2 separate regions of the Homo sapiens genome follow, and region 1 is linked to region 2. The links come from fine-mapping of genetic effects on gene expression. A gene starts in region 2. The other region holds a variant in brackets. All regions are shown on one strand. Distances are from middle to middle. Region 1 overlaps SLC2A13 (solute carrier family 2 member 13). Region 2 holds the start of SLC2A13 (solute carrier family 2 member 13).

Evidence for each region. PIP is the estimated chance that this variant, and not a neighbour inherited with it, causes the effect.
Region 1: its variant is the best candidate, but not a certain one, in a credible set for the expression of SLC2A13 in hippocampus (GTEx, PIP 0.67).

What each region holds. Positions count from the first base shown.
Region 1 is chr12:39,945,904-39,962,152 of GRCh38, forward strand. SLC2A13 (solute carrier family 2 member 13) reads right to left here. Exons shown (of 10, transcript NM_052885.4): 4 at 5,354-5,462. Among named protein-coding and RNA genes, the nearest start is that of SLC2A13, 150 kb to the right of the region's middle. RefSeq lists an enhancer at 810-1,309. The variant A/C (reference allele first, on the strand shown) is at 8,351.
Region 2 is chr12:40,098,648-40,114,896 of GRCh38, forward strand. SLC2A13 (solute carrier family 2 member 13) reads right to left here and starts at 7,434. Exons shown (of 10, transcript NM_052885.4): 1 at 6,606-7,434. The coding sequence starts at 7,161. RefSeq lists silencers at 6,868-6,957, 6,968-7,037, 7,058-7,317, 7,338-7,587, 8,969-9,098 and 1 more and an enhancer at 8,588-8,757.

The DNA.
Region 1 (16,249 bases), 150 kb before region 2:
TTTTTTGTGGGGGGGTGTTGAAGAGCCTTGTTTTGTCATATAGCCATGGTTGGCCTTCTGGTTCCTTCTTATTTGGGTAGGATCAGTCAGAGGGAAGGTCTAGGGCTGAAGGCTGTCGTTCAGATTCTTTTGTCCCACAGGGTGTTCCCTTGATGTAATACTCTCCCCCTTTTCCTATGGATGTGGCTTCCTATGAGCTGAACTGCAGTGTTTGTTGTCTCTCTTCTGGGTCTAGCCACGCAGCGAGTCTACCTGGCTCCAGGCTGGTATTGCAGGTTGTCTACACAGAGTCCTGTGATGTGAACCGCCTATGGGTCTCTCAGCAGTGGATACCAGCGCCTGTTCCAGTGGAGGTTGTGGGGAGCAGGTTGCAATGGACCCCATGAGGGTTCTTAATTTTGGTGGTTTAACGCTCTATTTTTGTGCTGGTTGGCTTCCTGCCATTAGGTGGAACTTTCCAGAAAGCATCAGCTGTAGTAGTGTGGAGAGGGACTGGCAGTGGGCAGAGCCCTAGAACTCCCAAGATTATATGTCCTTTGTCTTCCACTACCAGGATGGATAGGAAAGGACCATGAAGTAGGGGCGAGACTAGGCATGTCTGAGCTCAAACTCTCCTTGGGCGGGTCTTGCTGTGGCTGCTGTGGGGGTTGAGGGTGAGATTCCCAGGTCATTGGAGTTGTGTACCTAGGAGGATTATGGCTCCCTCTGCTGAGTCATGCAGATTGTCAGGGAAGTGGGTGAAAGCTGGCAGTCACAGGCCTCACCCAACTCTCACGCAAACGGAAGAGCCGGTCTCACTCCCACCATGTTCCCGCAACAGCCCCAAGTCTGTTTCCAGGCGGAGGGCGAGATGGGCTTGAAAATTTGCCCAAGGCTGTCCGCCTCCCAGTTGTGAAAGAAAAGGGCTTTAGTTTTTCCCCCGGCCTGTGAAGTATGAACGCCCCATTTGCGTCCTCCCTTATGGCCAGGAGGCTTCTTGCCCCATTCAAATTGTTACCAAGTTCAGCTACAGAATTTCTTCTCCCTGTGGACTTTTACCCCCTGCTCCTCTGGCCACTCTCCTGATGGATCACTGTGGTGCCAGGCAGGAATGGGCTGCTTGGGATCCAGCAAGCTCCCAGGGCCTTTCTGCTGCTTCCTCTACCCGCTTATTTCACTTGCCTGTCTAACTTGACTCAGCTCTCTAACTTGACTCAGCTTCTATTACTCTGAGTTAATAGAAGACAGAAAAGTAAGAAGAGGAAATAAAGCTGGCAATATTACTCTGCAAGGAGAGTGGCTAAAAAGTAAAAGACCAAATGCCCCAGAGAAGATTCCCCCACAGTTCTCTTTATCCGAAGCAAACTCAAAAGCTTAAACTCTGGATTTTCTTTCCCCCTTTACTACTGTTTTTCTGTGTAACCTTAAAAGAGAGTCATTTAACCACTTGGTCTTCTTAGGTAAAAATCTGATACCTTTCATTCATCCAAGACAGACTGATTATCTGCTTATCAGAATATACCAAAATATAGTTTACTTCAAGTTCCCCAAAAAAGAAAGATGTTATCAAACCCACATAGAACTTAGTGTTTTCTTTCTCACTACCTACGTACACCTTTCCTCCTCCAAACATGAACACATGTATTTAGGTTGTGGTAATGATAATGTGGGAAGTGTCTATTTATTAATAGTCATCAGATAAATATTTCTTAGATTGAACATGGAACATCTTTGATATTATAACTAGAGTTTAGAATAGATCACAGTGAGAATTTCTTTTTTTTTTTTTTTTTTTTGAGACGGAGTGTCGCTCAGTCGCCCAGGCTGGAGTGCAATGGCATGATCTCGGCTCACTTCAAGCTCTGCCTCACGGGTTCACGCCATTCTCCTGCCTCAGCCTCCCGAGTAGCTGGGACTACAGGCGCCCGCCACTATGCCCAGCTAATTTTGTGTATTTTTAGTAGAAACAGGGTTTCACTGTGTTAGCCAGGATGGTCTCGATCTCCTGACTTCATGATCTGCCCACCTCGGCCTCCCAAAGTGCTGGAATTACAGGCATGAGCCACCGCGCCTGGCCGAGAATTTCTTGAATTTACTTTAACCATCATCATCTTCATCTATCACTCCTCTTCTTTATTTTGACACATGCAGAAATATTTTATTGGTCTATGAGATACAGTGCAATGATACTAACACCCTTATATTAGGAAAGTTAGTACTCCATTTTCTCTACTCTTTCTCTCCTATGAATAAAGGAAAATAATCAATTCAGTTGCATGTTGAAATTATTAGGATGAGAGTCATATTATAAAAAAAAATTGCCTCATCTAAAAGTGAAATGTAATGTCTGAAATATGTAAGTTTTAAGAACTTACAAGTCCTCCATTCGGTAGGGTAGAGGATGAGAATGTATGGGTTGGGATATAAAGAAACATAAGTTATCATACAAATAAAAGATATATATCTATATATATGATATACTGTCTATAGATAAATATGGTAAAGGAAAAGAAAATCAAGTATTTCAAGAAGAAAATCTATTTTGTCAAATGTGACAGAATAGTAAATAGGTCAAGGGAATAGGAATAAAGGATTCTTTGAGGGAGAAGATAAAAAACTAAACACAGTAAGATTATATAACACAACTGTGAGGATGATTTATCTTTTAATGTATTTGTTTAATATTATCTTTCCGTATAATCTTTCTATAAACTCACCTTGGTGAGAAATAGAATTCAAAATACCTTATATTTCCATTCACTCAGATTTTGAGGTAAACGACAGAATTTTCAAAAACGTATTTCAACTTCTACACATTATTAGGGTTGAATTAAAATAAAGAAAAGCATTAACTGCTTTATTTCCCACTTAAAAGGGAAGAAGCTGGAAAAAAAGAGTAAAATTTTATATACATAAACATATGTGTTATATGTAATAAAATATCCATAGAAAAGATATTCTGAATTAACAAAGTAACACAAAATAAAAGGCATAATTAAAATTTCTACTAAAAATAAAAAAAGTAAATTACTAGACTCTAATAGATTATTTTAAATCAGAAACAAAGTTTATGATAGTATTTCCTTAATCTTGAGAATAATGGAAAAAGATACATACATATACACACACAAATAAAGACTAGAGAGAGCAGGAGAAAACACATTACATGAGAGTCCCAGATTAGTTGTTTTTTATGCAGACAGTAAACAGTATTACAGTGTATCATAATGACACTGACTTACACTAAATTTTATGGGCTTATAATATGAATGTCTGAAATTATGTACTGTGAATAAACAACAGTTACTCAGCATAGGTATTGTATTATTTTAATGTCTAATCCTTTAACCTCTAGACATGAACATATTAATTTATGCAGGAAGTTGATTAGCTGTTTTACATCATGTAGACACAGTCTAAGTTCAGCCATCATTTACTTTATTTTATTCTTCCTGTTTTCCAGGATTGATAATCAAATGCAAACAAAAGCTCTATGACAACACTACCTATATCATGTGCAGTTTATGATAAGCAAAGTGCATCTATCATAAATATTAGAGAATATCAGGATCCTTATATCACTTGATCTTCAGGAAAAAAGTGAGGCTTTGGAGAAATGAATGTTTTATTAAAATTTGACAGCATCAATCAGCTCAATTTACACTAGCTACTGCTAATGGATTATGACAGTCATTTCAAACTAGGAATACACTGGCCCCAGTCACTACCCATAAACTAGAGTTGGCTCTGTTTGTGATACCAGTTTTAAGTGAAAACAAAAAAAGTACAAGAAAAATCCTTCACTTTCTATGCTTTTATACTTGTCAAGTTTAAATGCTTAGGAAAAAAAGCATAACAAACAAAACATATTTTCAAAACCAGAACAAATATTAGGTTGGTCAACTAACGAATTCACATAGGATTATTAATGGATTTAATTATTTGATGCTTGGTCCTAGCCTAGCTGCAATTCTATACTTCCACCAGACTGCAGAAGGTGGACACATCTCAGAACAAGTCATGATGTGCCAAATTCAGAGAACAAGCAATCAAACGTGCCTGGCACTAGACCAACAGATGGGCCTTAATAGAGCTGGTAAAGGTGAGAAAAAATGAAAGTTAATGTCAGAGAGAAGCAGGAGAGAACAAAATATTGAACATGTAGTCTCGAAAGTTGAAGTTCAACAGGGATTATGATTAAAGTCAAATCCACAAAGTGTGTGAATGTATAGAAAATGGAGTTTCTCAACAAATCTTGATTTAATATACTGGCTCATTGGGTCCTAATCCTTCTTTTTTAAAAATATTTTAATCAATTCACTCTTCTCAAACAGTCACTAAATAACTCATCATATCTCAAGTAATTAAAAAAAATCAAGAGTCTCAAATACAAATGGTTTACCAAAGAAAATTTAATTTTACATAATTTGTATTTTCTTAATGAAAAAAATTCAATCAATAGGCAGGGAGTGGGGAGGACTTCTAAGATGTGGCAGCTTTTAATCTAACAATATGTGCCCTGGGAAAGCACATAACCTTCTCTAAACTGTATTTTATGATTTAGGATCTTAAAAGTCTACTCTGTAGAGAATTGAGAGAGTCCTGTATGGCCCTTATCATAGTTTGAAATCTTATATTTAACTGTGAGTTTATTTAATGTGTGCTTCCTCTACCAGCCTGTACATCCATGAGGACAAGACCCAGGTCTATTTTAGTTACTGCTGTAGGTCTAGTGCAACAGAGGCCCTCAAAAATGGGTTTAATACTGAATGAGGGAAACCTAGTAGAGCCCTTAATATTTAGTCCTTCCCACCCTCAGCACACATACAGCTTTGGGAATTACTCTTAAAATTAGAGAACAGGGAATTTTTCTGTATTCCTCACTCTCCTTCCCACTCAATCTCCCCTCTACCATACTCTGGTTATAATAAACGTACTTCTACTAATGTCCTTATCACATTGCACTGTAGTAGACTGCACCAAAAAGAAATGAATTAGTTATCTGTGTGCCCATAATCTCTGGCAATGCCAGGTGATTTCCTTCTATTTTGCTTTCCAACCAGCATCAAGAAATGGCTTAGAAAAAATGACACATTTAAGCTCAGAATACAAGGAGGTATTGGATGGCGTAAAAGAGAAATTTTATGGAATCAAATAAAGCCAATCATATAACAAACAAAATAAATCACCTTTATCTAGTAACAAATTACTGGAATTAAAAAATTGTAAAGTCAGTATCTCCCAAAAGGAGAATTCATACATTTAATCAGAACAAATCACTGAGTCTAGTATTTACATGAAATACTTTTCACTATTTCACATAAAATAATCCTTTCACAATCTTTTCAGTAAAAAGCCAGAAAGAAATACATACATGATGGTGTTAATGCCTGAGAGCTGCTGGAACATTTGTAGGCCACAACCCACAATTAAAGCTCGGCGAGTTGGGGGATAACTCAGCATTCTGCAGATCACAGGTCCAGCTTTTTTAAGAAAGAAAGAAAAAAAAAATACAACTATTATTTTTAGCTCTCATAGTAATTATTCCCAATAGGACAAATTTTCCTAAATCTTCATGAAATCAACATGACTGGGCATTTTAAATCAGAACAACTCTATTTTTACAGAAATCTGGGTACAATATTTTATTTTGCAAACAGATAGTGTTTTTGTTTTTGTTTTTAGTTTGAACTGTAAAAGCGACAAGAGATAATTTAAGTTTAAGCAATTTATGGGTACTAGAAGACCTATATAACTAAAACTGTCAAATTAGTCTTCCTTAAATCCCTACAAGCTCTAGAGATTAACCACTTCCTTTGTTCTTCAACTTTCTTGTCAATTAAGTATTATTTAAAATCCATCCATGTGGGACTACTTAAAAGTCACTGGCAAAATTGCTTTAATCAACCGTAAGAAAAGCATTCATTAAGAAGAATTAAAGAACAAAATTCATGTTATTTTACTAAAGTTACAGAATTTGGGCATGATGTCAGCCTTGGTTATAGCTACAATGGAGATTATTAATAAAAGTTACCAAAAAGTTAATAAAGAAAAACAATTAATACCTATTATCTATAGATGTGTGTATGTGTGTGTACGTGTGTGTGTGTGTGTATTTCTAAATTTTGAATAGTCCCTTAAGAGGCAATCAATGATTATTTTAAAATACAAATGAACTTTCAAAATGGCAGAGATACTTTGGTCTTTATCTGAACTCTGGATCAGTTCTGGAAAGCTGTAAATCTGAACCACTGAGTCCTTAAGTAGGTTGACTAACCTTATTGATGCCTGTTGTCAGGGCATAATTACTAAATGTGGCCCTTCCAGCCTCATAAGTGTTTCAGTTACAATGTCACCTTAGCTTTAAGAGGCATTCTATATGGTGTCCTTAATGGAGCTAGAGTCAACTCCCAGGACCTATGGTATTCCCGCTGTTAGAAGAGATGGCCTGGGATCACTGCAATGCTAACTGCTTAATTAGAGTCCAAGTTTTGTTAATGAACTCTAAACCAAGTCCGGTAAATTAAAATCCAAAGAAGTCTAACTATTTCAGGATCTTTTGAAAATCTAATATTCAAATTCACAAAAATGGAATACAATATGTATGTTGTCTCAGCAATAAAAGTTAGTATGGGACGTCAAGCCAGGGCATTAATTAGAATGAAATATTATAGGGGTGAGAATATTCTATTCCTACATGGATATAAGTATAATCATAAAACTTGAGTTATTGCAAATGATTTTGTTTCTAAATGGCAAGAGAGGGAATAGATTAATTTAGAGAAGCGTTGATGGTCATTCAAAGCTAAATGTAGTGACGATCCATTTAGAAAGCAGACTGAGGGTATTATAAATGTCAAATTGCCTTAGATTCGAGCAAAGCAGTATTAAAGCCTAATATATCAGAAAGACTGTGTGAAACAGGTGAATTTTGAGAGTTTGATTGTAACAATGCTGAAATATATCTGGATCAGCAACCTGAAAGATAGGCAGGCTCATCTGCAAATACAGATACCTGCAAGTGACCCACAAAATAAGCAAGGCACTACCTTTCCTTTAATCAAAACTTTCAAATAAAAATAATAACATTTACCTTGTATATCATGATTTTTTTTTTAAAAAAAGACAACAAAACAAAAACAAACAAAAGCCCTTTCTCAGATGAGAAATTAGTTTTTCCTAATGCAAGAAGTCTATTATAATCTTTGGAAAGATGCATCTACTTTCACTATTAAACTGTATCATGATTTGATGGTCAGGCTAGGTAATAATGATTTTGGAGAACAGAAATACAGAACATTATGACAAATTAGGACCAAAGTTTGACTTGCCATAAAAACAAGAGATAAGCTATTGCATAAACATCACATATTTCCTAGTTTTTTAAAATCTGGATTTTATATTTTCTCTTGATTTGGATTTCCTGTTAAAAATAAATGATGGTAGTTCCTTTATTAGACTGCATTTTTTAATGGATAAATTTTGGTCCCAGCAGCTGCACATCTGATTATGCATAAACAAAATTAAAGAATTTCCTTTCATTAAAATTATGAACCTAGCTTTATTAGGCAGTAAAACTTCCTTTACAAATGAAAACCATCATTAATCTTTATATCACAGAATCTATGAGGCAGAAGAAAAAAATCAAGTACATTAATTGGCTGAATGTTCATAAGTGAACATTTAAAATGTCATGCTCTACTTAAAACATTTCTTTTGCTTTTGTAATTAAAAATGTTTTGTGCATACAAACATTTCACATTTAATTTTATTTTAAATGTTTATCTTTCAAACACAGAAATTCTCACATTATAAAAACTAAAACCTTTAACCAACTAGATTAGAAATAAAAGACCTAAAATATAACCCATAGTAAAGCAGTAGATTCAAGATCCCAAAATGAGCTCATCCCTCTTCCTTCACTCTGAACACCTCATACTACCAAGTTGCTAAGTAACTTGCATAAGGTTGTCCAGGTGGCAGAGGCTCCAGCAGCAGGGATGAAAAAGAGTCCCACAAGGGCAGCCACTTTTGTGGATGATAGGTTGTCTGTGAACCTAGCCTACAGAAGGTTTTCTAAGTATGATTAAAAATGCACTAAAAGCCAGTTTGTATAAAATTCCAGCTCTTGACTTTCATTTCCAGCTAAGACAGAATAATGGCTATCAGCTTTCCCTTTCTACATGAATCAACTAGAAAGCCATGCAAAAATGCATGAAACAACAGTTCTCATGCTAGCGGATAACAGGCAATGAAGCAAAGTGATACCTGAGATTTGGGAAACAAATGAGGCGAACCCTGTAACTGTCCCCAGCTCAATATCTCAAAAAAGTTTCCAGGCTGCAGCACAGGGCAGGTAAACCAGGCAGAC[A/C]TTGGTGTTTCCTTGAGTTGAAAAGATGCAGCTCAGAATACAGAGATGCCAAGGGGGCTAGAATTCAGATGGCAGAGGACCCAGGGAGGATAGATTCAGAGAGGGAGGAGGAGAATCTGGAGATCTTCAGAATTTCCCTTGAGTATTCAGTTGAGTACTGATCAGTGTAGGTGTGTGAGGAAACAACCCAAGACAGGGGAAAGAGCTACTGGAAAGGGTTAGAGAAATCAATTCCAGGAGCTCAAACAGGGCTGGGGATAGTGCCTGTTCCTACGAACCAGAGTGAAAAATCTGAAGCATACAAAAGAGTATTTAGAAGGGATATACCTTAATAATGGTGTAAGTTTAGTCCTAGATTAAACATTACTTGAATGCCATCTAAAACAGCATAAAAGCAAGACTCAACTGCTTCTAAGCAGCTTAATGGTATCCGAGAACAAAACTCAATGAGATAAAATTTTATAATGTGGACATAAAATAAAAAATAACTAAGAATGCACAAAGGCAGGAAAATACAATTTGTAAAGATAACGGGACCAATTCATCAAGAGAATATAACAATCCTAAACGTGTATGCACTTACTGAGAGCTTCAAAATATTAATACTTGAAAGAAAAACTGACACAACAGAAAAGGGAAATTGAAAAACCTACAATTGTACTCTCATATTTCATCACTCTCAGTAACCGACAGAACAAGTATCCTGAAATTCACCAAGGATATAGAAGACTCCAAGAACACTATCAACAAACTTGACCTAATAAGTGACATTTAAACCACATTCCACCAAATAAGAGCAGGATATGCATTCTTAAATTGTATGGTCAATGTCTTAGAATATTTACCTGAGGTAGATTATATTCTGAGCTCTAAACTAGTCTCAACTCATTTAAAAGGATTCAAGTCATATTAAGAATATCCTGACCATAATGAAATTAACATAGAAATCAGTAACTGAAAGACAACTGGAAAACATCCCCCAAATTGGAAACTAAATAACACATTTCTATGAAAATTAGTAAGAATATAAAGCTGAAAGAATCTAAACACATAGCCTATAAAAATTTGTGGAATGGAGCTAAAGTGTAACAGGTAAAATTACTGCAAGAAATCTCTTAGGAAACCTTCAACCTTAAGAAACCAGAAAAAGACAGACGAGTGAAACCCAAAGTATGCACACGCTAAAAGTATTACTAAAGATCAAAATGGAAATCCATGAAGTAGAAAAGAAGAGAGTTGAGAAAAATCCATAAAACCAAAATTGTTTTTTTAAGACCAATAAAATTGATAAGCTTCATGCCAAGCTATGGTAGGCTAAATAAGGGCCCCTCAAAACATATTCACATCCTAATCCCTGAAACCTGTATTATCTTAGATGTCAAAAATAAACTTTGTAGGTATAATTAAGTTAAAAATTTTGCGATCGGAAGACAATCCTAGATCATCCAGGTTTTCCCTAAATGCAATCACATGTATCCTTATCAGGAGGAGGCTGAGGAAGATTCGAGACAAAAGCAGAGAAGACAAATGCAGAGATTGGACCTACGCAGCCAAAAGCCAAGGAATGACAGGTGCCCCCAGAAGCTGGAAAAAGGAAGGAAGAGGTTGTCCTCTACGGACTCTGGAGGGGGTGTGGGACAGGAGTGGACACCTGGCCACCACAACTGTGAGAAAATAAATGTCTACTGCGTTAAGCTACCAAATTTGTAGTAATCTATTATAGTAACCACAGAAAACAAATGCACAGACTATCCAGGAAAAAGCCAGAAACACAAATGACCAATATCAGGAGTAAATGAGGTGAACTCAGGACAGATATTAAAATAATAAGAGTATCATGAACAACTTTATGCCATTAAATTCAGCATCTTCAATGCAACAGACAAATTCCCTAAAAGATACAATCTTCCAAACTCACTCAAGAAGAAATAGCCTGAGTAGCCAGCCCTATAAGCTATTAAAAATACTGAATTTGTTAAAAACGTTCCCCCAAAGAAAACTCTAAGTCCAAATAACTTGACAGAAAGCAGATCAATGGTTGCCTGTGGAGGGAGGAATTACAAAGGGGCACCAAGGGAAGTTCTGGGGAGGCAGCAATATGTTCACTTGCATGGTTGTGGTAATGGTTTCATGGTGTTCACATATGCCAGCGTCTCAAATTATATGCTTTAAATACATGCTTTTTATTGTATGTAAATTATTCCTCAATAGAGCTGCTAAAAATCAACAACAAAAGTAAGAAAAAGCTTCACCAATAATCTAGAGACTTTAGATGTCAGGAAGGCTGACATGGTGAACTGGATAAGAAAAAAAATTCAATATTCAAAGAGCATGATATTCCCTTAAGTAAGAACACAAGGGGGTTATTAGAAACAACAATGTTTGATCAAACTGAAGTAATGAAGTCTGCTGTGAGACTGCTGAAAGAGAACTGCCAATGATGAAGCCCCCTTAACACCTCTTCAAGGTTTTTCTTGCTCTTATTCTTCCCTTTCTTTTTGTTTTATTTATTTATGAGTTTTACCTTGTATTAATATTAAAGTTAAGGAGGAAAAAGTGGAACACTTTGTGACTAATGGATTACAAGATGCAAACTGTAGGAGGCTTCCCCACTGCTGATAAAGTAAAGATGCCCCTGTGGAGAAAGCAGGGGCCTCACTGGGAGCAAGATAATCACTGCTCAGCTTCAAATATTATTCTCCCCACTCCTCAATTTAGGGCCCTATAATTGGGCTACAATCAAGCACAGCAAGATCCCCCAACACCACGATCCTTTCCTGAATGCAACCAGAGGCGGCCATTCTCACACAATCACCAAGAGTATTAAGCATTTGCTCAAATCTCAATGGATTATCTAATACTTCAATAACCCTTCCTGCCTTATGAACAATTTCCTATCATCATCAGAGTCCTGTGAAGTCAGAGAGACCAAGTGTTGCTACCCCCATCTTAGAAAAGAGGAAACTAAACACAGAAGGATTAGATAACTCTTCCAAGGTCACAAACTAGTAAGTGTTTAGAGAGAGAACTTGGGCCGACATCTTGTTCATGCCACAAATGCCAAGATATTTTGTATGCCCACTTAAATAAGCTTATTTTTCTTAGCATAAAAAATCAACAACTTATGAACAGTAGAAGTAACACAAAACAAAACTGAAACACTTCCAAGCTATAGTAACAAACATACTCTGTGCTCCTTACGACTGCAATTCCTCCATTTCATTTTCTTCATCATTTTCATGGTCCCACCTGCCACTCTATCCAGCCTCAGTTCCAGATTTATCTACTTCAAGCCACTCATTTCATTCCCACATCCAGGGAGTTCTCCATTCCCACATCCAGGGAGTTGAGCATTGTTTGAGAATAATTACAAAAACGAGCCACACTCATTTTGGGACAAATTCAGCATGTCAGGTCCTGCGTGCTATCAGGGGAGCCTTTCACTCATCTCTAACTGGCTCCCAATCATGTTCTCACAACATTCACTTTAAGCATTCCTCCTCCTTGGACTTCCATTGATTTCTCCTGTCTCTCTGGCCAAGAATCCCCTAGTTCCTTATCATACCTGAAGCGCTTCCCATGAGCCTACTCCATGCTAGGGACAGAAACGTGAGGAGGCCCAGCCCCTGAGGAGCTCATAATACCAGGATGGGGTCATCCACCAAAACAAAACAAGCTATGCCACAATGGTGTAAGTGCTCTAACAGAGGTACATATACAGTATTATGAGATTAAGGCATAAGGAAGGACCCACAAGAGGTATGCCACTCAGGTACATACAAAACAGAAGTCCTCATTTCTCACCCCAAACTTGTTTTTTACCCCATGTTATCTAATTTCAAAGTAAATCAAGATTCATGGCTTTTGAGTGCTCCTTCTCTCTTCATATATCCTGAATCTAATACATTGCCAAGTTTTAATCAGAATTAATGTATGTATGCCTAACTTCTTTCCACAAAACATTGGAAAGATTTCTTCTGTTCTGCACCTGTACCTCTCTGCCTCCCCACCTTTCTACTGCCTGTCTGGCTGGCATCCATCTCCCAGTGGGACAGTGCACGGCTGTGGAAAGTGTTCACACAGACCAGTGTTAACATACCAGTCCTACAATGTAGCCACTGTGAGATTCTGTAAGTCTCCATCGCCCCTTCAGTAAAATGGATTTAAGAGTAGTACTATCCATTTGAGGATTAGAGATAATAAGGTTCCTGGCACATACTATTCATGTGTTCAATAAGAAGCCTAATATGTGGTCTCAACATCCCCAGTCTCTACCGAATCCAATCCATCCCGCCTCCACATTGCTGCCACCTGTTGGCTAAAGCACCCCACTGAATCCTCCACTTACTTGTTCAAAACCATTGATAACAGAACCATCAGGGCCTGTTTCATGAAGGGGACACTCCTGCCCCAGCCCACCTGAGAAGATTTGTTTCATACTACTTCTCCTCTAATAGGCAATGCTTCAGCAATTTTTGGGTAATCTGTTTTACTCAAAGAAGTCCCATATTGTTACAATTTTGTCTCTTACAATGTTCCTTCTGCTTGGGATCCCATCCTTGCAATTCTGAAGGACTGGACCAGGCTCTCACTCCTGGCTAATTTGTTTTGGGGACTAGGTCCCTGATCTCTGTTCCATAGTGAATTATGATCTCTGTGCTGGATTATGTCGGGTGTGTAGTTCAGGCTTTGCTCATTTTATCATTTTACTTCCCATTGTGCTTAGTTCAGGATCATGTAAATAGAGGACATTCAGTAAATATTTCCTTGATGAATATAAGGAATAAAAGAAGGAAAGAAGAGAAAAAAAGAGAAACACCAGAGCAAGTATGGGGATTGAGAACTCATGGATGAAGCAATTTGAGTATACTCCAAGTTGCTAAACAATGTTGTGATTAATTAGAAACTACCACCAAGATCCTGAGCACACCCACGCTGTTTTCCTCTTCAATATGCAGCAGATGATGTTTGTGATTACAAGCTGGTGCTTGGCACATGTTCTGCTTGAAAGAATGGACTGCTGCTATTGATGAATTCAACCCCATGTGGTTCAATCATTCTTTCACAGTCTGGCATTTATGCCAATACATTCCAAAATCCTCCAAGGCAATCAATTTGCCAAGATGTTGTGATGGGCCAGTTGTCTATAGATGCGTGCTTGTAAGCTGATCATGGTACATTAGGGCCGGTATGCAATGACTGTGTTAATCTGGTCATTATTATTCCAGGTTGCTAATGTAAAGGTTTTTATCAACTTAGAAGAGGAGATGATTATAGGTCTTAATACCACTAAAATACTGTTTTCAAAAACCAATTTCTGTTACTATCAAGAATTCTTTCTAAATTCTAAAATATTTTCTTTGTCAAAAGTATCTACATAAATGAAGCAGACATAAAATGCATTCCTCAGCAATTCTCAACTGAACGAATTTCAAACTTCTTAACAGTCATGGGAGTGTGGTATGTTGCTGAGGAAAAAATTACGAAGAATTACTGTTCTAGAAAACTTTTATTTAAAAAGAGGAAGTATCCTTTCTAAATAAATAATTTTCTTTTTAAAAAAATTTTATTTTACTTTAAGTTCCAGGATACACATGCAGTATGTGCAGGTTTGTTACACAGGTAAATGCATGCCATGGTGGTTTGCTGCATCTACCAACCAACCCATCACCTAGGCATTAAGTCCCAGATGCATTAGCTATTTATCCTGATGCTCTCCCTTCACCTGGCCCCCAGACAGGCCCCAGTGTGTGTTGTTCCCCTCCCCGTGTCCATATGATTTTCTTAAATAGCTATATTGTTAGCATTGTCTATAGACAGGGCCACTTTTTTTTCCTATATGTAAATATATCTTTATTGGGGTCTGCTAAAATATCAGTTACTTTTCTCTAAAGTTATATGCATATTTCATAATATTGATTCCGCAGTACCTGACATTTTGGTTTCTATTATCATTGGTATCTTTTTTAACATTACATTTCCTCTTTGATGCTGCACTTGTATGTTAATTTTATATCCACCAATTTTGGTGAACTCTATTAATTCTAAAAGATTTTCTGCACATTCTCTTGAGTTTTCTACATAGACTTCCGCAAACAATGACAGCTTTATTTATTCCTTTATAATGTTGGCTAGTATTTTCTTGGAGATGAAGACTCGTTCTATTGTCTAAGCTGCAGTGCAGCAGCGTGATCTCAGCTCACTGCAACCTCTGCCTTCAGGTTCCAGCAATTCTCCTGCCTCGGCCTCCTGAGTAGCTGGGATTACAGGCACGCATGACCATGCCTGGCTAATTTTTTTATTTCTAGTAGAGACAGGGTTTCACCATGTTGGCCAGGCTGGTCTCGAACTCCTGACCTCAAGTAATCCACCCACCTCAACCTCCAAAGTGTTGGGATTACAGGCGTGAGCCACCGCGCCCGGCCTAATATTGGCTAGTATTTTCAGTACAACGTTTATTAAATGGTGAAAAATGGTTTCCTGTCTCATTCTTTTTTTTTTTTTTTTTTTTCAAGACAGAGTCTTACTGTGTCACCCAGGCTGGAGTGCAGTGGCGTGATTTTGGCTCACTGCAACCTCAGTCTCCCAGGTGCAACCGATTCTCCTTTCTCGACCTCTCGAGTGGCTGAGATTACAGGCGCTCGCCACCACAGCTGGCAAAATTTTGTATTTTGGTAGAGATGGGGTTTCACCACGTTGGCCATGCTGGTCTCGAACTCCCGACCTTCAGTGATCCACTCGTCTTGGCCTTCCAAAATGCTGGGATTACAGGCGTGAGCCATTGTGCCTGGCCCTTGCATGATTTTAAAGAGAATGTTTTTTTCTTTTTTTTTTTTTTACTTTGAGACGGAGTCTCGCTCTGTCATCAGGCTGGAGTGCAGTGGCATGATCTTGGCTCACTGCAACCTCTGCCTCTTGGGTTCAAGCAATTCTCCTGCCTCAGCCTCCCAACTAGCTGGAACTACAGGTGCACGCCACCACGCCCAGCTTATTTTTTATAATTTTGGTAGAGATGGGGTTTCACCATGTTTGCCAGGCTGGTCTTGAATTCCTGACCTCAAGTGATCTACCTGCCTCAGCCTCCCAAAGTGCTGGGATTACAGGCATGAGCCACCACGCCTGGACTAAAGAGAATGCTTCCAAAGTTTCATCAGTAATATCCTTGATGAAAGCTTCTGATACGTATCCTTAAACAGATTTAGGAAGTTCCCTTTTATTCCTGGTTTACTAACCTTTTATCAATAAGCAATAATTTTTTTGTTTATGACAGGGTCTCACTCTGTGCCCCAGACTAGAGTGCACTGGTATGATCATGGTTCACCACAGCCTTAAACTTCTGGACTCGAGCAATCCTCTCGCCTCAACCTCCCGAGTAGTTGAGACCACAGGCACATGCCATCACATCTGGCTAATTAAAAAAAAATTTTTTTTTTAGAGGCAAGGTTTCATGTTGCCCAGGCTGGTCTCAAACTCCTGGGCTCAAGCAATCCTCCTGCCTCACCCTCCCAAAGCGCTGTGATTACAGGTGTGAGCCGCCACACTCGGCCTTTCTTTTCTTTTTATGAGACAGAGTCTCACTCTGTCACCTAAGCTGGAAAGCTGCGGCACAATCACAGCTCACTGTAACTTCAAAACTCCTGGGCTCAAGCAATCCTCCCACCTCAACCTCCCAAGGAGAAAAAACAATGAACTTTAATACATGTACCAAAATATCACATATACCCCATAAATATGGGGTGTTTACTTAATTAAAAAAGCAATGAATTTTATCAAATGCCTTTTCTCCCTCTATGGAGATGAGCGTTACACAGTAAGTCACAATAATAGCTTTGTAACATCAAACCACCTTCGCATTCCTGAGAAAAGCCCTATGGATTACCCAGGCTGGAGTGCAGTGGC
Region 2 (16,249 bases):
TCTTGGGTTTGAACTCTGGCCCCACCCAGTAGCTTTGTGATCATGAGAAAGTTACTTCAACTCTTTCTGCCTAAATATCCTTATCTTAAAATAAAGGTAACCGTATTATCCCCCTGGGTTATTATGAAGACTATGTGAATTAGCCATGTGCAAAATGTTTAGAAGTTAAGCATTCAACAAGTCTTAAGTACTACGTCCAGGGTGTTGGCCGCTAAGCTGATGGCCAATCCACACCCTGCCAAGAGGATGGACTGCCTAGACTCCTCCCAGTGCAGCGGCAGGGTGGCGCTAAAATCAGAAGAACACTGGTGCCATTGCTCGCTGGTGACCAGCTGTCACGGTGCTTGGCCCTGCTGTGAAACGATGCTCCTGCCACGTGGCCTTGGACACATGCTGCAGACCGCACCATTTCAAATGGTGGCCTTTAATAAAAGGCCTAACTAGAAAGCATGTAGTACTCTCAACTTGAGTTTAGAAGTACCCGTAAAACTTTTTTCTCTCTTTCTACAACCAGAGAAATTAAATTTTACATGTGGGAAAAGTTTGAGGTTTTTCTGGTGAGTATGAATTTTCCTCCTGACAATGGAAGTTTTGATACTATTAGAAATAGGTGCTATAAGAAGTGTTGCTACTATTTATTACTCTGATGGGTCACAGGAAAAAGAAAGGTAAAGAAATGGAAAAAGGTGTAGACAAGAAAGATGTACAAAGGAGCCAAGTACAATATGAGAAAAAGAAAATTAGACTCAGGTGATTTTGGGTAAAGATGGCAACGACTGCTTGCTATTTCAGTTCTCTTAGCAGTTTCTACATCATTAAAGGTGTTCAAAAAGATGTTAGTGTGAAGTCAGTTAACTTTGAGTGTGTTCTTACTTTAAGTTTATAATCCATAAGAGGGCAAAATGGATGAATGAAAAAGCACAATGTTTTCCAAGGAAGTCACGTGAACAATTTCACATAACTCACGTTAACAGACTTACGTTATCTTACTGACAACTCACTTGAAGAGGGTGTTGCTATACTACTAGGCAAACACAACTAGATCATAATCCTCACTATAACTGCAGTGTCAGTCCCTAGGCTGCCAGACAGAAAAGGGGAGGGAACAAAGCTGTTAATGTGTATAAAACAAGGAAATACAAGAAGTCAAAGGAGGCTTTATGTGTCAGTTTCACACCAGTAGGAAGCATAAATCCAATACAGAATTCCTGCCTTCAAAAACAACCAAAAAGAAAGAAAGTGGGGAGTAGTGGAAAAAAAAAAAATTTGAGCACCTCCCCCCAAAACTGTATTTTAGCTGATTAACTATTTGAAAATTAGGAGCTTCTGCCCAACTATGCTTACCTTAAATGACATTCTTTGTTGACATTGATCTCAACATTGCATTTTTTTGATCAAACAAGATTTTACATTTCATTTGCACTGAGGAAGAATTCAAAGTGCTGTTTGAAAAAAAATGTGGTATTTTTAAAAGTATTACTCAACAGGCCATAATATACTAATTACAAGCTGCAATTTACAGCTACAAATTGTGTTCAAGTAGAGGGAGTCCGGAAAGAGGCTGACACAGGAGAAACTGATGTAAATCTAAGATTAATTCAACGAATCCCGTGCTGTATAAATTAGTATGTCAATTCTCAGGAAAGGTTTTGAATACTGGTGACTATCAAATTTAGAGATTTCTTGATATTCCCTACACAGGCCCTAAATCACCACTTATAATAAGCAGTAGAATAAATGCCAACACCAGGGAGAAAGGGCTAATGGGTATGCTTTTTCACTGACTGTGTACATGCTAATAGTGTTAACAGTACTATGCTCTTGTACTTTGTGTTTTCTAGACAATTTCTTTTGTGTTATGCATGGGAGATACACAATGATAGAAAATAAATAAAGCAAATGAGCAAACTCATATTCTTCAATCCTGTTGTAACTAACCACACTTCAAAACCTTGATTATAGGTACAATACTGCTAAACAAACACCTGAAAATGGGATTGTGTGTAAAGAACATACAAAATAAGATTAACCCTGGGCCGGGCATGGTGGCTCACACCTGTAATCCCAGCACTTTGGAAGGCCGAAGCAGGCAGATCACCTGAGATCAGGAGTTCGAGACCAGCTTGGCCAACATGGTGAAACCCTGTCTCTACCAAAAATACAAAAATTAGCTGGGTGTGGTGGGCAGGCGCCTGTAATCCCAGCTACTCAGGAGGCTGAGGCAGGAGAATCGCTTGAACCTGGGAGGTGGGGGTTGCAGTGAGCCGAGATCTCGCCACCGTGCTCCAGCCTGGGCGACAAGAGTGAAGTTCCATCTCAGACAAAAAAAAAAAAAAAAAAAAAGATTAACCCTGTTAGAATACAATCATTTCTGGGATGGAAAACGTATGTCCTATTTGAAATTCGACTTTTCACGTTTAAAAAGTTCAGATGGTCATGGTAGCAGGCAGCGACAATGGAGAAAGTCTAGTGTCAGGACTCAAGTGGAAGAGAAAAATAAACTAGAGGAACCAAAGATGACTCTGGTGAACCAATAAAAAAAAAAGAAAAGAAAACCCAAAATAATGCCATATTTAAAACAGGCACGCAGTATTTTTTTTACAACCAGTCAAGAAAACAGAACCCTTAAATCAAAACAAATACACATATCCCTGACTTCTGATACTTAAGGTCTTTTACTATACAATTCATTTAATACCCATTAATAACTACACTCTACTCCTTGCTATCTTCGCCTTTGTCAAAGGTTTCTACTGAAGGGTCCACTGACTCCTTCCATATCAGTAATTCACGGTCACATGCTATGCTTTACCCATCCTGTAGTAGCCATCTCAGCAAATGATTGCTAATACCCAAAATTTCAAAGACATGAGAAGACTTAAGAAAGAAGGTAAAAGAGCTTAAAAGTATAATGGGAAAACAAAAACCCTCACATCTCAGATTCAAGAGATGTTAAATCTGATTACATTATTTACTGTTAAAAACCTCTAAAAGCTCTCCAAATAAACCATATTCAGCCTAATCCCCCCAAAACATTCCAGTCTCATGACCACCTCATCACCACCCTCACTCATCTATGCTTCAAATACTAATTTGATTTTTCTGTGCCTTTACACCAGCTATTAACTCCACCTTAAATGCCCAGTAGGGTAACAGAGCAAAAGACTCAAGGTTGTTTGTTTTTTTTTTTTAATCCTGTCTCTGTAATCAGTGACCTTGCCATTTAACTGTTTCCACACCCAACAAAAGGAGACCCATTCCTCAGACTCAGGAAGATTAAATGAGGTAATATGTGTAAAGTACTCCACCAGGTCTCGAACATACTAAAGCACTAAATAAGCACTTTTCTGGCTACATCTACATCATCTGCTGAACACCTACTCACTCTTCAAACCCTACTTTGAATATCCCACTGTAGAACTTTCCTCAATCCTGTGTTCTATTTTTTTCCCTGAAAGAATCAACTGACCACTTACTCTTCTGTGTGTCATCTGGCACTACAGAGAAATGTCTCTTTTAATTGCTTGTTTATGTATCTTTCTACTCCATTATAAAATGAACACCTCCAGGGTGGGATTTTTATCTAATTACTGCCTGCCCCATATCTGACAGGATCCATAATGGAAGCTTAATTAGCAAGTGTTGAATAGATAATGATTTCATTAAACTATTACAACCAAAACCTTTAGATGCCCTTTCAAATATTTTGATAATGCACTATTTTTGTGGTTTGAAAAGAACAATCCTACCTTAAAGTGCTACCCGACCAGCAATGGAATTTGGATTTTTTTTTTTCGTTTTTGCTCACCATTCATTTATTCAACAAGTATCTCCTATGTGGCAGGAATATATCAGTGAACAAAATGAGCAGAAATCCTTGACCCACATGGGCCGTATATTTTACCACAGGTAAACGTGTGGAGGAAAGAAGTTCTTAGAGCAAACTTGTCTGAAAAAGGTATCAAAAGCCACATTTTGTTATTCATCAACATTTCCTAAATATCATAAGGACAAAACAACAAATCCCTGACTACACATAAAATTTAACTACTTAAAAAACAATGGCATAAAATTAACCCAGATTGTGTACCAAACAAGCAAACTGATTTAATGTCCCTCAAAAAATGCTCATGTTAGGAACCCATTTCCTTGTAGCTTAAAAAAAAGTGATTTTCTTTGTAAGTTTTAATGATTTTATGTGTATAATTACATGCTTTGCATAGATCCTAATTTTAATCCTAATTTGAAGTGGATTTATTTCATTACTGTTTTGTTTTGAATGCGGCCTATTTCAAAGCCTGTTTATGATCTTAAAACATTCTTCATTTTGTAAATGAAGAGGGCTTTTACGAAACTGCCTCAGGGCTTCTATTCTGAGAGGTATGTTTCTGGAAGTGAGATGGGCCACACCAGAACTGAATGGAGAACATATCTAAACTGGGCTTCTCTATTGAACCAACCAGCCCAGAGACCACAGAATGAGGCTGCAAGACAGAGAGGCCTCCACAGCTCTTGCACACCAACACTTCCAATCTGATCTCCTGCTTTGTCCTCTATTGCTGCTTCCACCTATTCCCCAAGTATGCCCTATGCTTTCCTTCCTTTACCCATTTTGCCCCTTGCTTAGAACGTCCTTTCCTCGTTTCTGTTAAAATACTGACATGTCAACATACCATTTCCATTGGTAAGAGCTTCTGGCTTCCCTCTGTTGGAGATAACTGTACCCCCTCTGAATTCATCAGCCATCTCTGATAACCTATCTTATAAAGCTTAGCAAGTTCTACGTTGCTTTTGCCCCAGCTTGCTACATTTACTAAAGTATAATACATTCTCCTCACTATTCAGCTCACAACATCTGGAAGGGGACCTTACACAGAACAGGGCTCAATTCGCAGGTCAGATAAAAAGAGTAAACATAATACCCAAGATTTTAACCAATACCTGCCATAGCAAAACACTAGGAAGCTTCATTTAGACAGCTCTGCAAAGCATGATTCAATTTCAAAATTACAGAAAAGATTGAGGTTGACAGAACAATTCTTGCTACCTAAAATGATGTTATTTCTATGTCAGAAGCAACAAAAAAGGTCCAGATGTCCCAAGCAGACAATGCTGAGAAAAGAATCGTGGTCACTTAAACAGCAGGTTATTTGTTGAAGGGTCCTGAAGGCCCAAGTAGTTTCCACACAAATAGGTTTCATTTCAGCTGGATTTTTTGGTCACTTTGGATATTTTTGTGCCAACTTAATATGTTACGGAGAGCTTTGCCCTACCTTTGCTAATTAACAGTACAATAAACAGCAAAAGGAAGGTCACTACTGACAAACTTTGAATATAAAGTGCAGTGAGCTGGGTTTTAGGCTCATGGTTCCCGCATGTGGAGTTGAATATATGGCCTTTGCTTCCCTTCAGAACCCACAGAGAAAGGGTGAAAAGCACAAACATCAAACAAGTGGTGAATACACAGATCAGCAGCAGCCCCAGGTTTAAAGCGCTTTCATCAAGCCCCAGCCATAGGGAAGAAATACTTCAACAGCACCCTAAGGGAAACAAAAAACTGAATTATGAAACGAAACATTAAAAAAGCATCAGCGGTGTGTCTTAGAAAAATTACTAGTGAGATTTAAGTCACAGCCCCCCACTTTCCCTCAAAAGTGCTTTCTAATAATACAGAGCACATTCCAAATAGCTTCCCTCTGCCAAAAACTTGCCAATTGTACCTCCCCTGCTCAGCAACCAGGGTGAAAAAAATTCAACGCCAGGAGAACCTTAATGCCTTCATTTTTGAAGTAAATTCCAAACATTTATCTTGCGGGGCATTTATCCACAGGGGGAGTAGCTCCTAAATGAATTAAGGAAGTGAATATGACCTTTAATAGATAATTTGGTTCCCAACTGGAAAGCAGGAGAGGAAAAACAAAGAGGAGAATGGATAAAAAAGGATTCAAATGAAAAAGTTGGAAAAACAGAGGAGAATGGAATTTACTTGGGAAAAGAATGAAAGCTGAAAGGCAATAGAAAAAGCATAAAAGCAAAAGGAGATGCCATCTAAAGACAAATGCTAGATAAGCAAAGAGGGCAGGGGTCGCTAATAAACCTTTCAGAGTCCAGAATTACTTAACTCTAAATATTATCTCACTGTAACTTGACGATGGTCTAGGTTCCAGGCTGGGAGCCCCAGAAAACGAAAGGGGCTAGCAGTGGAGAGGCAAGGTGGGACAGTGCAGGAAAGCAGAGACCCTCGTAAGCTCAAGAAGCAGCATCAGGTTAGGCTGGATCAAGGAAAGAGCTGGTGCTCAGCTAGGTTTCTGGAAGTGCTGAGAGGCAACAACCACTTGGACTGACTGGTCCGTGGCCTATCAAAGATTCCACGTGCGCTCGAGGGAGACTAGAGTGACACCCCCTCCCCCCCGACCCTCCCACCTCCCGGGAGAGCCTTGGAGGCTGGACCAACAAACAGATGGGCTCTGGAGGCCAGAGAAGTGGAGGATTCTCTGACCCTGGGAGACCAGACGGGGACCCCGATGGGCAAGAGGCACGCAACACCCAGGGTCAAGGGCGGTGACAATGGGATCCCGGGCGCCCTTCACGGAGCCCGAACTCACCGATGCCGAGTCCCACGACCAGGCGGCCGGCGAGCAGTGTCTCCTTGTTGTTGGCCGCAGCCAGCACCGCGGAGCCGGCGGTGAAGAGGGCACTGGCCAGGAGGATGGCAGCGCGGCGGCCGAAGACGCCGTTGAGGGCGCCTCCGGCCAGCGCCGAGACGGCAGCCGCCCCCACCGTGCTGGACACCAGCAGCTCCTGCCACAGCGCGTCCAGACTGAGCTGCCGCTTGAGCAGCAGCATGGCCCCTGACACCACCCCGGTGTCATAGCCAAACAGGAAGCCGCCCAGCGCGGAGAAGACGGCCACCACGTACACGAAGGCGGGGGTCTCGTCCTGCTGGAACTGCCGCCGCGCCGCGCGCTCCAGGTCCCCGACGCCGCCGCCGCCCGCGCCCGCGCTCTGCAGGCTGGTGCTCGATTCGGCGGCAGCCAGGAGGCTGCACTCCCCGGCCGCGCTCGCCGCGTCCGGCTCCGGCTGCTTCCTGCGCCGCTCGCCCATCAGGCTGCTCAGGCTCCGCAGCGTGTACTCCACATTCTCGCTTGCCTTGCGGGACATAGGGCAGGGGCCCGGGGCTGCCCGGGGGGACGCGGCTCCGCGGGCCGGCAGTCTCGGCGAGCTAGACAGCCCGAGCCGGCGGGAGCAACCGCCGCTGCCGCCGCTTTCTTCCTCCCGGCTTCCGCTCCGGCTGCCACGGCAGCAGCCGCCGCCACGGCCGCTCCGGGGAGAAAGTTGCTGCCCGCCGCGCTCCGACGCTGCGGAGTTGGAGCCCGGCGGGTCTCACTCCACACTCACGCCCCGCGCCTGCCGAGCTGGCGCTGCGGAGCGGGCGGGAGGCGGGACCGCGGGTCACGTGCAACCCCGGGCCGGCGGGGCGGGGCCCGGGAAACGTCCCGCCCCCTCCTTGGGCGGGGCCAGGCTCAGCCCGCCCCGGACCCCTAAACCCCGCCCTCCCGGTGGGTGCGACCTCTGACCTAGGCTCCCTCATTTAGGGCTCTGGCAACCGTATGGAATTAACCCTGCCTTCCGAGCTGCAGCGGTGGAGCAAGCCAATGTGGCGATGCCATCAGGCAACAGGCTTCCAGACGGGAAGCCACCCAGAATGTTTGCCGTGTTTGGAGAGGAGGGAGAGAGCACCTAAACCAGCCTCACTGTCCTTCCAGCAGCCTAGAGAGAGGGCTGGAAAAAATATCCTAGAATAGGACCTAGCAAGTACCCTTCCTTTTATAGTATTGTGACATTACCCAGCGTGGTCTACTTCCCTGGCATTAAATGTGTTTGTTCTGGAGCAATTCAGGGCTGCATGCTCCCATTTCTATAGCTAGTTTCCACTCTCATCGCCAGTCCCTCCTCAATTTATGCTTATTTTAAAGGAATGGTACATTTGATTCTTTGAGGACAGAGAACATATCTCTGTGGTGAATCCCAAACCCTCCTTCCATGGATCCCCGACCTGTAAAAGAAAATTCACATATATGCATTCCACTCATGTAACGGGTAATTCCCAGAAATAGAAAGAAAACTCAAGACCCTGATTTGTGATTCGGCAGGCAGTCTCCATTTCCCCGCCCCAACATGCTAACCAAAAGGTAGGATAGCTTCTCTCCTGAGAATCCCCACTGTTGCCCTCCATGAGGCACTGTTTTAACAGCCTCATTTACTTGAAACAAAGCAAAGATAACGTTATTTGCAACCAATTTTTTAAACTGTTGAGTGAATTAACAGTTGTTGGTTCATTTGGGGTTTGTTTCCCCCTTTAATTTAAATGTTTTTAAAATATACAGTTGCGCATCAGGGGCTAAAGATAGTTTGTTTTGTTTTGTTTTGTTTTTGAGACAGATTCTCGCTCTGTCGCCCAGGCTGGAGTGCAGTGGCGCTATCTCGGCACACTGCAGCCTCCGCCTCCCAGGTTCAAGCGATTCTCCTGCCTCAGCCTTCCTAGCAGCTGGGACTGCTAAAGATGTTTTGTGCCTCTAATTTGCTTTCATTCTTCAGGCTGAGGGCAAAAAGTCAAGCATCATATGATTCTATTCCTACAATTCCACTGCTCTTTTATTTCCCTTATTTGAGCAAAAGCTTTCTTAGCCTGGGGCCTATTTTTCATGCAGCTATAACTTTTTTCCTTTCAGACAAAAGGATTTTGTCATTCCTGTTTCAGTAAAAACTTATATTAGAATTTGTCAAAACTGCTTTCGTTTTGATTATCAGTCACGATTATCTCTACAATATAGTACTTTCCTTGCCAGCAACAAGGAAAAATAAACTAATGAAGCCAGACGGCTTAACTATTTAAATGTTATCGTCTGGCTTTAAAGCAAGGCTCTACCGTCATTCCCAGGCATCAGTTAAACAGAGAGAGCCTTTAGATCTGCAGCAATGAACTCTTTAATATTCAGACCTCGGACAATATTGCAGGTGAGAGCGCGCCTTTTCCGCGGCATGCTACGGTATAGTAAAACTGCGCCCCCTGGTGGTGAGCCAATTCCCACGGCTTCTGAAGAGAAGGGCTCCGCAGATGAGAAGCATCTGGTTCTTTGACAGTTCCCTCTTGCTGAGATGAAAATAAACTACTTTTTGTCTCAGCTGGTGCAGTGAACATCTTGGTTCCTGAGCATTCCTTGCTTGAAATTCAGCTTTGGGGTCATAGAACAAGAAACTACTTTAAAAATTCTGTTCCGTATTAGGACAGTTATGTATCTGCGGTCAGGTTACATTTTAAAAGAAATGTGACGTGAAAAAAAAGGCATCGGAGGCCGGGCGCGGTGGCTCACGCCTGTAATCACAGCACTTTGGGAGGCTGAGGCGGGTGGATTACGGGGTCAGGAGTTCAAGACCAGCCTGGCCAACGTGGTGAAACCCTGTCTCTACTAAAAATACAAAAGTTAGCCGGGCATGGCGGCACGCGTCTGTAATCCCAGCAACTCGGGAGGCTGAGGCAGAGTATTGCTTGAACCCAGGAGGCGGAGGTTGCAGTGAGCCGAGATCGTGCCACTGCAATCCAGCCTGGGCGACAGAGCGAGATTCCATCTCAAAAAAAAAAAAAAAGCTTCGGAGAGTTAAACAGAATTCGTCTCAGCCTTGAGAGGGAGTCCAGTTCAACTTAGCATCAGCGCGTGAGTCTAATATGGAGTTCCCCAAAGTCGGCCCCAGCTGCGGTTTATGATGAACTGGAAAACCCATGGGCTGAGAATCAAAAGAGATGAATGTCAACACCACCATTGTTTTACCGTAAAACTTTCCACAAACCACAAGATTAGCTTGTGCTTTGCTTTTTTTTTTTTTCTCTCATTTGAAGAGCAGATAATGGTGCAGCAACTACTCATTGACGAGAGTGTTAAAGGGTATTTTTGAAATATAATTAATTGCTATTGCAGGGCAAATTTAATTACAAGAGTCATTATTGGTTTGCAGTGAGTTCTATAGTTCCAGCTTTGAGGATATTTGCTTTACAACCTCCAGTAACATGTTCCAAAGCAGTCTAACAATAAAGAAAGGCGAAAAGCCCCTTCTCAATCGTCTTTCCCACCATAACAGACCCCTTTGGCCAGAGATAACCACCTCTACCACTTTGAAATATATCTTTCCAGAACTTTCTCTATGAATTTATATGCATATGTATGTACATGGTAAAATACATATATATATATTGTTGTTTTATTTGTTTGTTTTTGAATTGTTTTGGATGCAAGAGATAGAGAATCGAGATCAAACTGGTTTAAGCCAAAATAATGGGAAAGAGGGAGTACTTATTGTCTATTGTCTCTGAAAACTCTCTAATAAGTTGGCGTCAAGTGCAGTTGGATAAAGGACTAAAAACACCAGGATGTCACACAGACGTCCATTTCTCCACTCTGCTTCCTACTCCTTAGGCTCCATTCTTAAATTTTATGTGGTGCTCAAAGGGCTGTAGCAAACTCCAAGCCCTATACCTGAGATAGTTTGGATATTTGTCCCCATCAAAATCGCATGTTGAGATGTAATCCCCCGTGTTGAAGTTGAGGCCTGACAAGACTAGTTTAGATCCTGGGGGTGGATCCCAAATGAATGGCTTGGGTCATCTCCTTGGCGATAAATGAGCTCCTTTTGAGTTCACAGGAGATCTGGTCCTTTGCTTTCACCGTGTGATGTGCCTGCTCCCCCTTTGCCTTCCGCCATGATTGTAAGCTTCCTGAGATCTTTCCAGAAACAGATGCCAGTGCTGTGCTTTCTGTACAGCCTGCAGAACTGTGAGCCAATTAAACCTCTTTTCTTATAAAATATCCAGTCTCAGATATTTCTTTATAGCAAGAACAGCCTAATATAATATCCTTTTCCACTCATGTCTGAAAGGACAGAAAAAGAGCCTCTTTCTCCAAAGCCCTAGCAAACTTATATTGTATGTAATTGGATTTGTCAGTTGTGGTACCATTCCTGCCCCAGTTACTGCAGCTGGGAGATTACAGTTTGGTGATCAGGCTGGGGCCAATCAACACCCACATCATGAGCTGTGAGTGAAGGTAAATTACATGGGCTTAGACTATAGGAGGTTTTCCCATAAGAAATGTGATGTGCTATTTTGCCAGAAGTCAGGCGAATAAATGCTGGCAATAAAACCAATATATTTGAGTTGCCATAAGTAATTAGTAAGTTAACATGGCATAAAAGCCAAGTAAACCATTTCAAGAAGGAAGAACTGGCTAAGAGAATCAATTATATTACACAGAGATCAAAGAGAATGAAAACTCATGGAAAATCTTTGAATTTTATTATAGAAAGTCAATGAAAGACCAGATGCAGTGGCTCATGCTTGTAATACCAGCACTTTGGGAGACCGAGGTAAGTGGATCATCTGAGGTGAGGAGTTCAAGACCAGCCTGGCCAACATTGTGAAACCCCATCTCTACTAAAAATATAAAAATTAGCTGGGTGTGGTGGCGCATCCCTGTAATCCCAGCTACTTGGGAGACTGAGGTAGGAGAATCATTTGAACCCAGGAGGCAGAGGTTGCAGTGAGTCAAGATTGCACCACTGCACTACAGCCTGGGCAACAGAGAGACTCTGTCTCAAAAAAAAAAAAAAAAAAAAAAGAGAAAGTCAATGAACGGTGACTGTGAAGAATCAAAATGTTATTTTGATGGTATTACCTTCATGAAGCCTAGTAATGCCAGAATCCCATCATTTTGATTATTCCTCATCTCTGTATGTATAATAAGCAATAGCAGCATCAGAAGAAAGATACTGTATTATTAATAAGTACAAAGGTAAAGTATGGGTCCTATGGCTTAGTTATGAAGTATAAGATACTTGGGTATTTAGTACTTCCCACAAGAACCTTTCTTTGACTTGCTGTAAGGAGGAGGAGGAAAAAGCTGAAAGGAAGGAGACAAGAATGGAGGGAAATAAGAAAAGATGGTCAGCATACCCCAATGGCCAGTGCCCTGTCTAGATCTGCCACTACAGAGAGACAAGGAGCAGGAAGCACAAGAAGGCATGAGGGATGGATGACCTTTTAACATACACTGACCCTGCCCACTAGTAACTATGACCCGATCAGCAATAGAGCCTGTGACACATCATTATATCATCTCCTCCTCCTTTGGGTAGGGAGAGTTGCAATGCCTGTTTCCCCTCAGAGACTTTTAAGAAAGCAATTTTAATTAAGATGAAATTAGTGGAAATATCAAACATAGGCTGCATTTTCTATAAGTCTCTTGCTAAATGTAATGAAAGAGTAGCTTAAAGAGTTATCAGGATCAAGGGAAAGGGTGTGGATGGGGATTAGGTATGACATGAATTTATTTAGATGCTGAAGTAAAAAGAAATAGTCAATTCAAGAGCTGGAATGATTGATAGGACAAAGTCCCAAAGAAGGCAGAAAGGATATGAGCAAGAACATATGGGGTGAGGCAAGGCTAGCCTAGCCATAGGGAGGAGGAGAGACACTTCTTCCTCTGAGAAAAAAAGGCAAGGAAACAAAAAAGAACATCATCATAAGAAAGAAGATGATATTAATAACAAGAATAGGGAAAGAGTTCTGTTAAATGGGTAATCTTGTGTATTTGGGGGTGAGGGGTGGAGTGAGCCTAAGATGTAGTCACAAAGACTCCACTTCATGTCTTCACTATGCTACTTCCTTGTGTAACCTTGGGCAACTTATTCTCTATAAGCTTCAGTTTTCTCTTCTGTAACTGGGAATAATAATACAGTATTCATATTTGGATGATTTCAATTCTAACAGATAATCCACATTCAAACTGTCCTAAACACTACAGAAATACATGGCATGAATCTGAATGGCCAGCTGTTGGGAATGGTATGATCAGCTTTTTCCAAAAATGTTATGAAGGAGCCAGGTTCTATCACTTTCTCTACTCTGCTATTCTTAGCATATTGGGTTTGCCCTCCACTGGCTTCCCCCAAAGTGGCAAGAGGACTTCAGCATTTTCAGATATCATAAGTTTCCAATGTGTACACATAAGGATAGTACCTAGTTCCTATCCTCAAATGTAATGTCTTTCAGCTAGTAAAATATCCACATGGCCAAATATAAAAGTAACTAATAATACATAGCACAATGTACTAAATGATTGCTACAGGGAAAAAAAACCAGAGTAGTTGAATTTTGGTTGTGGAGTGTCAAAATATTCTTTATTGACCCAGATGAATACCTACAAATGATCAAAATTAAAAAGAAACAAAAAAGAAAACCCAATTTGACTTGTCAATTCAAGGAATGCTCTCATTAAGCAGGATTGAGCGATCTGAAATGAGAACAATGGGAAGTATTTGTTTCAAAGTAGACTCACTAATGAAACTAACAACTCACTTTATTTCACTGAGATGTGATTAATTTGGTTTGAGACTGGTTCTTCAGGCAGTTTCAATGTTTGAGCTAGTTAGTGGAAAATAATTTTATTTTTATTTATTTATTTATTAAATTTTGAGCCAGGGTCTTGCTTTGTAGTCCAGGCTTGAGTAGAGCAGTGCCATCACAGCTTACTGCATCCTTGACCTACTAGGTTCAAGCGATCCTTCCACCTCAACCTCCCTCCTGCTTTAGCATCCCAAAGTGCTGGGATTACAGGCATGAGCCACCAGGCCCAGGTGGAAAATACCCTTTAAATTGAACTTGTAACATGATGAGCTCCTTACTGATCACTCTGTTTTAAACAATTTTATATATTTTGTTTTGCATTTTGAATCCAAATTGTAAACTCAGTTGTAACACTCACTCTGTCGGAAATTGTAAGTACAGTAGGCATGGTACCACTGTGACCCTACTTAGCCAAATTGAATGAATTTATCAAGTTAAAACTAAGCAAAGTATGCAGCTGAAACAATCAACATATATTTTATAATTGGCTAATGAGTGTTATATAAATTAATAAATTCCTCTTTCCTTATACTCTCAACTCAGAAAAACCAAAAACTTTTAATTTGATAAAACAAATTGTGTAACTCATTGTCCATATAATGTTGCATGGCATGAACAAACACTGTTTGGAAAGATACTTTTGTCTTCCCTGTCAGTAGTACTTACACATGCAAAATAAAATGATCATTTAAATTAACTTGTGCAAAAAACATTTCAGCAAGAGTGGCCAACCTCAATATATCCAAAAGCATGCTATTGTAATTTCCCTCCAGATTCTCTCTCACAATTTTTATAATGTTGATATGGGTTGGCTCTGTGTTCCCACCCACATCTCATCTCATAATGTAATCCCCTCATGTTGAGGGAGGGACCTGTAATCCCCACGTGTCAAAGGAGGGAGGTGATTGGATCATAGGGGCAGTTCCTCCCATACTGTTCTCATGAAAGTGAGTTCTGATGAGATCTGATGGCTTTATAAGTGTTTAGAAATTCCTCCTTCATGCTTCTTTTTCCTGCCACCTTGTGAAGAGGTGCTTGCTTCCCTTTCTGCCATGATGGTAAGTTTCCTGAGGCCTCCCAAGCCATGCAGAATGGTGAGTCAATTAAACCTCCTTTGTTTATAAATTACACAGCCTCTGGTAGTATCTTTATAGCAATGTGAAAACGGACTAATACAAATGTATACCATGGAACATTTTTATACCTAGAATACACTGAACCACCTTTGGGTAATGCTGAAGTTGCTTTCACATTTGATTTTCATGCTAAGAGTCAATAAATGTGAGACAGAGATCCTTTGGAGCATTCACTACTCTCTTCCTGTGATTTTCTTAAACTGGGAATTCTTTTAGAAAACTTATCTTCATAGGTGCAATTAGAGAGGTTTAATCTACAACTTGGCCTGCAATTAAAGAGTGTCCTTAGTAAATGAGAGCAAGGCCTGTGTTTGCTTTGTTTAACACTAAAGCCCTTGAGGCCAGCTAGTACAGTGCTGCCGCATGTAGGGGCTCAAATATTTATTCCAAGAACATATTAATGAATCAATGAATGGTATCAGTCTGTATGGACTCTGATTGACATGGGTATGTAAGTCATGACTTTCCACATTTAAGGATAATACAATGAAATAATAACAACTTGAGGTAACATGAAGTGCCTGTAGAGCATCACATCTAAACCCCAACTCTAGTCCAACCAGTGGTCAGATTTTAACTGAGCAACCAATGAGACATAAAATGCTTTATCTTAAGAAACACATTGCATACATTATAGATTTTAATAGAAATATACTGTTTTTTGAGCATTTACTCTATGAAAAGTAGTTTATTTGGCACAGTCCTTAATTGTTCTCATTCTCAAGTAGGAAAACACCACATGCCCATGTGTAAAACTAGATGATCATATAAATTATTATATACCAAAGAACTGATAAAGACAAATTTCTAGTCAAGTTCACGGGAGACAAAAGATGGATGGACTGAAATTTAAAAATTATTTAAATACAATGACTTTTTTTCTCCATTTCAAGACAATAATATGAAAAACAAAACTGTAACAAAAATAGTTATTCCTAATTGGTACCAAAATTATTTATGAAATGTCAGCTGATCAAATTAAAGAGTTAATAATTTACTTTACTTCAGTTTTAAAATCTACTTAGTTTCTACCTTTATCTGGCCTACTAGTGATCACTGTCTGTTTTATCATCAATTTGGGGAGTTCTAGATTACAAGTAGCAATGCACAACTTCTGTGTGTATTGTCTCCATATTAATGAACATCTTTCTTAGCTACTAACCAGACATGTGATCACTCTGCCTATCACTCTGTGGTTTTGCACATTCTTCTTAAGAAAAATATTCAAAGAATAGAAATATTATATAAATCCATAAATCTCAAAACATAGACTAAGAATCAATGCTTTGAAAATCTTTGAAAAAAGTCTTGAAAATTTTGAAGCTGAAAGCTAAGTCTATATACTTATCAGTCAATGATCTCTCATCTCGGAAAATTACTCTGAACTCTGTAGAGAACTAGAAAGAGATGAACCATTTTAGTAGCTCTCCCTAATACTAAAAAGAAAAATAAAGCTTCCTAGTGGGAAAAAAACATTCCTCAGAATGCAATACAAAAAAGAAATGTGTTTCTGAGCTGAAGAGTTAAGATAATTGCATTATTTTCTCTGAGTTATTTATTTGTTATAAGAGATGTTTGGAAGAGTATAGAAAAATTCAGTAAATATGTTATTGCCACTGGCTAATGATGGCAGATATTCATCAGGGAGTGATTTGGA